Regions from separate parts of the Homo sapiens genome. Here region 1 is linked to region 2. Evidence: fine-mapped expression QTL. Tissue or cell type: whole blood. Region 2 holds a variant in brackets; the other region holds the start of a gene. All regions are shown on one strand. Distances are from middle to middle. Region 1 holds the start of STK4 (serine/threonine kinase 4). Region 2 overlaps STK4 (serine/threonine kinase 4).

Region 1 (4,394 bases), 22 kb before region 2:
GCAAGCCATCATACCCAGTCCCTTGAATACTGTTATGCAATTGTTCCCCATTTTCTGCCAGGTGTTGGTTTGAGGATCTATTAGGATACTAAAATGTGAGTATACTCATGTACTATAGTTGACCCTGCAGAACCTATGGAAACGAAAAGTCAGCCCACCCTATACACAGGTTTCACATCCCATACTGTATTTTCCAACCATGTTTCATTGTGGATGTGGAACCCTCTGATAGAGAGGGCTGACTGTATTTATTGAAAACAAAACAAAACAAAACAAGGGTTGTATTGGTGGACCCATGCAGCTCAAACCCTTGTTGTTCCCAGGTCAACTGTATATCCAGAGCTTATAGGAAAATACCTCTCCCAGTAACCCTGCTCACCATTTCTCTCTTAAGCTATTATTATGATTAGCCACGGTTTGCTATTTAAATTTAAATTTAAATAAAAATGTGGCCTTTCAGTTATGCTAGCCACATTTAAAGTGCTCAATAGCCATATGTGGCTAATGGTTACTATTTCGGACAGCACATATTTAGAACATTCCCATCATTTCAGAAATTTTCATTGGGAACACTCTGCGGAAAAAGGGGGCCATCATAATGTGAGTCCATCTTCTGGAAAAATCCTGGGAAGGGGACAAAGGAGGTCTGTTTGGCATTGTGTAATGGTAATTTGGTATTTAATTTTCAAAAATGTTTACCCAATTCCTATTCATCAGCCAGGTGTGGTGGCTCTTGCCTGTAATCCCAGCACTCTGGGAGGCCGAGGTGGGAGGACTGCTGCAGCCCAGGAGTTTGAGACCAGCCTGGGTAATAATAGGGAGATCCTGTTTCTACAAAACACCAAAAACAAAACAACAACTTTGATGTTGTGGAGTCAGGACAGTCCTGGGTTAAAACCTTTGCTCTCCTTAGCTGTGTAAACCGTGGGTCTCAGCTTTCTTATCTGTTAACGGTAGGTACTTCTTCCTAGGGCTGTTTTGAGGATTAAGTGAAAGTCCAAGATTGTGTCTGGCACACAGTAGCTTCTCAGCAAATGTTTTCCTCCTATGTCAGGGAATGGCTCCTTTATCCCGTTTTGGGCCCATGGGTGGCCCTGAAGGGTGGGTGCTCAGGTGTTAAGTTCTGTAGATGGCATATCCTTGGGAAAAGCAAGGCAATTAAAAACAGTGAGAGGTTGCTCTGGTTAAGTTTTCTCCTATAACTTTCCCCATGGGTCAATTGGGTAGAATCTGCCATTTTCCTAATACTTACTGATGGTAGTGGCATTCGGAAGCACAATAGCTGAAGCCGGAGCTCTGAGTGGAGAGAAAGGTCTGTTTCTCAGGCCCAAAAAGAGGTTACACACCCATGGCTGTCCAGTTTGGTGGTGCAGGCCCTGAAATCAGACCAAACTGGATTTAAATCCCCAAACCTATACTCTAAGCTATGTGACCTTGGGCTAGATACTTCACCTCTCTGGCCTTATGAAGTAGGAATAATAATAATACCGTCTAGGTTGTTAGGAGTATTAAATGAGGTAAAGCACTGAAAACGTTTAGGGACTGTGTTAAATCATTAAATAAATAAAAACGGGGATGACCTTATCGGCTTGACACAGGGGATTAAATGAGATAATATATGAAGACAAGTACACGGCAAATGCTTAATTAATGTTGCTTATTTTTATGTCTGCAAACTGACTTAAAGGGGAGGCCTTTAAGAAAGACAGTGGGGCAATTTGCGCGTTGATGCATTGTAGGAGAAAATGTGCAGGGGGCCCGTTGGGACCAGAGTTCAACCAGGTAAGCGGCAGAAAACCACAAATACCTCCAGGCGTTCCTGGGGCAGCGCCGCCTCCCCAAAATCACGCAAAACTTGGTTTGCTAAGAATTGTCAGCTCTTCTAAAGGAGGCGCTTCACGCATCTCAGTCTGTGAAATGGGACCCAGGACCCAGGTAGAGGTGCGTTCTCGGCCTGGGGACCGAGTATTTTGTGCGCTCCGGTAACGCAGGAAGACAGCGCCACTGACACTCTAGAGACCAGCGGGCACCGCCTGGAGGCGCCTTCACCACTTGGCGGTTCCGGGTCCGCGCCCCACCGCGCCACAAGACTCACGCCCGAACCACGTGATCAGGGCCGTGGCTCCGCCCCGCTCCCGCGCCGCGCGCCGCTTCCGGTAGGGGCGGAAAGCGGAAGTGTGGGAGGGTCTGCGGGGCGGGCTCAGGAGGTCCGCGGGAGGATGGAGCAGTGAGCGGGTCTGGGCGGCTGCTGGCAGCGCCATGGAGACGGTACAGCTGAGGAACCCGCCGCGCCGGTGAGGGGCCACTGGCTAAGAGGACGGGCATGGGGTCAGGGGAAGAAAAGGCGGGAACTGGTTGAGGGGATACACCTGTGTGGGAGTCCCCGGAGCTAAGCGACCCAGCCGATGGGGCACCTGCTGAGTGAGGGGGGGGACGTCTGGTGGGTGAGGGTCCGGCTGAGGGGAGCATCTGCTAAGGAGGTTAGACTTGGGACCGGTTAGAGGGAGCACTCGCTGTGGTGAGACTGTGCTGAGGAACGTGGGGACAAGTTAGGGAGAGTACCTGCTGAGGCCGGGCCACTCGGGGGAACGCTATCCAAGCAGGGACTCACGGAGGTGGGGGCGAATGCTGAAGCAGGGTGAGAATCTGTGAGGGATCTCTTTAAGGGGGTGGATCGAGAACTGGCCAAGAGGAAGGCCGGGTGGACTTTCTAAGGGTCTGAAGTCCCACTTGAGGGGTGCGGTGGGGGGATCTGTGGAGGGGAAAAGCTTTGCGCCTAAGGCTGAAAGCATGCGAGGAAAGGTTGAGGGTCTAGCAAGGGAGGGGATGGTGGAGGGTAGCATTTCAGAGGATGCTGTTGGTGGTGTCCCCACTGTAGGATGGCATCTTTTATTACTGATGTTCAGTGTCTTCCTAATGGTCTTCACATCCTCCTCAGCTCTTCAGAACCTGACATTGGGAGGTAGGTAAGGAAATAAGAGGATATTTTCGAGATGGGGAGACTGAGGTCCAGAGTAGTTGGGAAGTGTTTCCTTCTTTACTCCGGGTCACTGAACCCTGCCAGTCTGTGCCCTTTTCAGGCCTCAGTTGTTTTGTGAATATCAGCACCAAATCCTAGTGGTACCTGGAATTGCTTTAGTTCAAGATCAGGATGGTGGCTGATCCTAGAAAATCTCAACTCCTGGATTTCCCTTGTGGACATCCCGGGTCTTTTGCCACTCTACCACATCTGGAGAAAAGTAGGGACTAGAGACCGAAGGAGTCATGCTTCTCTGAGGTTCAGTGTGGTTACTTCTATTTCACAGAGACGTCTGACTTCCTGCAGCAGAATGAGCTCTAAAGAAGGAAGTGTTCAGGGTGTGGAAGTGCAGGGCAACCAAGAGGTGAAGAGAAGGGATTGACTGCCTGGGCAGCACTCTTAGGGGTTGTTTGAGCTTGGGGATGTTTGAGGTGCACAAACATTGCAGAAGGCAAATAGGTGGTTGGGATGGGCTTTGGATTCACCCTAGCGTAGTGTGCTGAGACTGTAATAGTAATGATTATTACACTCATATTGCACTTACCGGGTGCCAGGCACTGTTCTAAGTGCTTTCCATGTGTCCTGCTGAAGCATATGAAATTGCTGATATTTGACCATTTTTGAACCATAAAAACCTCATTTGAACTCATTTGAACCTCACAACAATCCTGTGTGGTAGATATCCCTATATGTCTGTTTTACAGATGATAAAACTGAGATACAGAGGGTAGTGATTTGCTGGGAGAAGTCATAGCAAGTAAGAGACAGAGCTAGGATTTTAATGTCTATGGGGTCTGGTCCAAAGTCCATGTTCTTTTTTTTTTTTTGAGACGGAGTCTCACTCTGTCGCCCAGTCTGAAGTGCAGTGGCGCAATCTCGGCTCACTGCTACTTCCGCCTTCTGGGTTCAAGCGATTCTCCTGCCTCAGCCTCCTGTGTAACTGGGACCACAGGTGCGTGCCACCACGCCTGGCTAATTTTTTGTAGTTTTAGTAGAGACGGGGTTTCACCGTGTTAGCCAGGATGGTCTCTATCTCCTGACCTCGTGATCCGCCCACCTTGGCTTCTCAAAGTGGTGGGATTACAGGCGTGAGCCACCGGGCCCGGCCATGCTCTTAACTGCCTCACTCTGATGCCTCTCTAAAAGTACCCCTGTTTCACAGGTCTCTGTGTATGTTAGCAGATATTTACTATAGTACCATAGTGATCCAATTATGAATGCACACTAGTTATGTTTCTTTCTGAACTATGTTCGTTCGTTCTTCTTGGTTTCTTTCTCCGAGGCCTTGGTTTAATTGAAAAGAGGATTAGGAATCTGAGTTTTGTTTCCCCCTTTGCCTTGTCTTACATAATCTTGAGCAAAGGACTAAAGTTTC
Region 2 (4,394 bases):
AGTCTATATTGGCCAGATCAGATATTCTATACTAGTTTCTAGCATTCTCACTTTCAACAGATATTTTTTTCAGTGCCTACTGTGTGCCAGGTGGCTTTATTGGTATTAGGGAAACAAAAGTAAACAAATCAGACATTTTTAGGAGCTTGTGTTTCTAACAGGGATGATATCACATACATAGATAAATAATGGGTAATATGTCAGATGGTAGTATACTGCAGTGACAAGGTAATTTAAGGGAATAGAGTATGAGCTAGAAATGGAGTAAGAAAGCCCTCTCCATTTTCTGAGGAGGTGATATTTGGGCAGATTACAAACTGAGGAAGCATACTGGATAGACATCAGGATGAAGAGAATAGGCAGTTGAAAAGTCCCAGAAAGGGGAGTGTGCTTAGAGTGTTTGAGGAACAGCAAGGAAGCAAGCCCTTGTTGAAACAGATTGAGCAAGGTAGAAAGTGGTAAAAGATGAAGTTAAAGAGGTAGCTGAGAGCCAGATCATGTAAAGCCTTGGTAAGGACTGACTTTTATTTTAAGTGGGTTAGGAAGACATTGGTAGGTTTTGACTCTGGCTTACATTTTAATTATAGCTTCTGTGTGGAAAATACATTGTAGAGTGTCAAGAGCAGAAGCAAAGAAGCCAGTCGGGAGATTATGAGAATAGTGCAGTCAGGACACGATGGTGACTTGGACCATGGTGATTACAGAGGGTGTATTTGGATATACAGTGTTTTGAAGATAGAGAAAAGTCAAGGATGACTTCAAGGTTTTTGACCAGAGCAACTGAAAGAATAAAGTTTCCTTTTACTGAGAGAGGGAGGACTGTGGGAGAAGTGGAGTAGGTTGGAAGGATCAGAGGGAGAGGGGTAAGGTGATAGACATAGAGTTTGATTTTGACATGTTATGCTTATGATGCTGGCTAGGTATTCTAGTTGGAGATACATAAATCTGATTGAGGGGAGATCTGGTATGGAAATATAGCCTTGGGAGTGGTCAGTGTATCTATGGTATAAGCAGTCAAATGCTGTTCACAGGTTGAATAAGATCTGTTTATATTAAAGAAAGGTTTGGATCTGATTTTTTCTCCTTTTTCTAATGCGCTGATGTAAACTGATAGAATTTGAACTTCTTATTCTTTTTTCAGTTAACAGAAGATGAAATAGCTACAATATTACAATCAACTCTTAAGGGACTTGAATACCTTCATTTTATGAGAAAAATACACCGAGATATCAAGGCAGGAAATATTTTGCTAAATACAGAAGGACATGCAAAACTTGCAGATTTTGGGGTAGCAGGTCAACTTACAGTAAGTAAAAATATTACTTGTATTGATAATTTTCATTTCTGTCCTGAGAAGCAGTTCCTTTTATTTACCTATTTTTAAAATATAATACTTGACTTAATTGTATTAGTAAAAAATCACAGAATCTGCCAATAGGTTACAAAAGAGCTAGTTAGTGGGTTATTTTAGATCTTTTCCTGGGGTTCAGGTCACATAGCTTAACTTTGTTCAACTTTTATAAAGATGAAAAGTAAAGCAAGAAATGATAGATTACTCTAGTGCACTACATCAACATATTTATAAAAGGAAGAAAAATTAAGAGGAAGAAAAATTAAGTCCAAACTGCTTTCCTTGACTAAGACATAACATCATCTCATTCAACTTCCAGGTAGTACTTGGCAGTTACTGTACTGAAAACACTCTGTTCGTTTGAGTCCAGGATACAGTCTCTTGATTCTTCTCCTGCCTAACTAGTGCATGGAAGTGAAAAAAGAAAAAAAAAAACTTGTTTTCAAAATAGGAAGTCTAGAATTATTTGATTCTACATAAGTATATATGAAAGTATATATAGAAAAATAGAAATAGTTTTAGGCAGGTATACTCTAAAATTTGCAAAAATATTACATATCAAGTGGTTTTCTTGGGTGGTAGAATGAATATATATAGTGTGTGTTTAGAACTGGTGTTATGTACGGTTTTTTTTTTATTATTTTTTTTTTATTATAAGTCTGCCTGGGACATGTTAGGGAGCCTCAGGTATTGTAACAGCACAGAAATTGCTTTGATGTTTAAAATAAATCAGAACCTTATTCAGTATCATGATTTGTGGGCTCTCCAAAAGGTTTTGTTGTTAACACAAAAGTAAACAGTACCAGACAATATTACCTAAACCACAGTCTTAGTCAGGAAACCAAATTGAAAAAATA[C/T]ACCCTCTGATGGTCTATAAAATAATATAATATTGGCCGGGTGCAGTGGCTTATGCCTGTAATCCCAGCGCTTTGGGAGGCTAAGGTGGGAGGATCACTTGAGGTTAGGAGTTCGAGACCAGCCTGGCCAACATGGTGAAACCCCATCTCCACTAAAAATACAAACATTAGCCGGACATGGTAGCGCACGCCTGTAATCTCAGCTACTTGGGAGGCTGAACCTGGGAGATTGCGCCATTGCACTCTGCACTCCAGCCTGGGCAACAGAGTGAGACCCCATCTCAAAAAAAAAATGTGTATGTATGTATGTGTGTGTGTATATATATGTGTGTGTGTATATATATATATATATATATATATATATATATATGTATCCATTCCATTTACTAATTTTAGTAATTGATTGATTACCCAATAATGACTTACAGTGTTCTTATTGCTATAATGCCTGCCTTGGCAGAATTTTTCTCCCCTTTTAATATGTACAATTCAGTGTTTAGTATATTCACAAAATTGTGCAGCTATTGCCAATGTCTAATTCCAGAACATTTTCATCATCCTCAAAATAAACTGTACCCTTTAGCTGTTAGTCCCCATTCTCTTCCCAGCCCTTGACAACCACTAATCTACTTTCTGTCACTATAGATTTGCATATTCTGAATATTTCATATAAATAGAATCATACATAATGTGCCCTTTTGTTTCTGGCTTCTTTTGTTTAACATAATGTTTTTGAGTTCATCCATGTTGTAACATGCATCAATTCTTCATTCCTTTTTATTGCTCAGTAATATTCCATTGTGGCTGTAACACATTTTGTTTACTTATTCATTAGTTGAATATTTAGATTGTTTCTGCTTTTTGGCTGTTAGGAATAATGCTACTGTGAAATTTGTGTACAGGTTTTTATGTGAACCGTTGTTTTCATGTGATACACAGAGTTGCTGGATCACATGGTAACTCTGTGTTTAATTTTTTAAGGAACTGCCAAACTGTTTTCCAAAGTGGCTCACCATTTTGTGTTCCCTGCTGATGTATGAGAATTCCAACTTCTCTGCATCCTCGCCAACATTTTCTTTTTTGTGTTTTTGATTATAACCATCCTAGTGAGTATGAGGCAGTATCTCTTTGTGGTCTTGATTTGCATTTTACTAATGACTAGTGATGTCGACTGTCATTTTTTCTGCTTATTGGACATTCGGGTATCTTTGGGAAAATGTCTATTTAAATCTTTTGCCCATTTTTAATTGGGTTATTTACCTTGTTATTGTTGAATTAAGAGTTCTTTATATATTTTAGATATAAGTCTCTTATGTACATGATTTGCAAATATTTTCTCTCATTCTGTGGGTTGTCTTGAAGGTGTCCTTTGAAATACAAAATTTTTAAATTTTGGTCGTGTCCAGTTTCTTTTTTCTTTTGTTGCTTGTGCTTCTGGTGTCACATCTAAGAAATCATTAGCTAATGCAGGGTCATGGAGATTTACTCCTATGATTTCTTTGAAGTGTTTAATGGTTCTAGCTCTTATGTTTAGATCTGTAATCTGTTTTGAGTTAGTTTTCATGGTGTGAGATAGGCATCCAATTTCATTCTTTTATATGTTGATATGTAGTTGTTCCAACATTTGTTGAAAAGACTGTTTTTTCTTTGTTGAAATGTATGAGTTTATTTCTATGCCTTCAATTCTATTCCATTGACCTATATGTCTGTCCTTGCACCAGTTCTGTGCTGTCTTGATTACTGTAAGTTTGAAGTAATTTTTGAAGTTGGTTAAGTGTGAGTGTTCCAACTTTGTCCTTCTATTTCAAGATTGTTTTGGCTATTCTGGGTCCCTTGTATTTCCACATAAATTTTAGGATCAGCTTGTCAATTTCTGCAGAAAAGGCCGTTGGGATTTTGGTAGACATTATTTTGAATCGTAAATCAGCTTGAAAATACTGCCATTTTGGCAATATTGTCTTCCGATCTATGAATATAAGCTGTCTTTCCATTTATTTAGATTTTCTTTAATTCTTTTAGCAATGTTTTATAATTTGCAGTGTACAAGTTTTGCATGTATTTGGTTAAATTCATTCCTAAGTAGTTTGTACTTTTTGATACTATTTTAAATGGATTTGCCTTATTTTCAGATTGTTCATTGCTAGTGTAACATACAATTGATTTTTGTATATTATCTTGTGTCCTGG

The links. PIP is the estimated chance that this variant, and not a neighbour inherited with it, causes the effect.
Region 1: it holds the start of STK4, and the variant in region 2 is fine-mapped to the expression of STK4 in whole blood (INTERVAL, PIP above 0.99).

What each region holds. Positions count from the first base shown.
Region 1 is chr20:44,964,310-44,968,703 of GRCh38, forward strand. It overlaps STK4 (serine/threonine kinase 4), which reads left to right and starts at 2,203. Exons shown (of 11, transcript NM_006282.5): 1 at 2,203-2,294. The coding sequence starts at 2,260. It overlaps STK4-DT (STK4 divergent transcript), which reads right to left and starts at 2,149. Exons shown (of 3, transcript NR_038341.1): 1 at 1,808-2,149; 2 at 1,253-1,376; 3 at 1-1,139. RefSeq lists silencers at 2,028-2,277, 3,958-4,087 and an enhancer at 3,418-3,497.
Region 2 is chr20:44,985,991-44,990,384 of GRCh38, forward strand. It overlaps STK4 (serine/threonine kinase 4), which reads left to right. Exons shown (of 11, transcript NM_006282.5): 5 at 1,142-1,306. Among named protein-coding and RNA genes, the nearest start is that of STK4, 22 kb to the left of the region's middle. The variant C/T (reference allele first, on the strand shown) is at 2,209.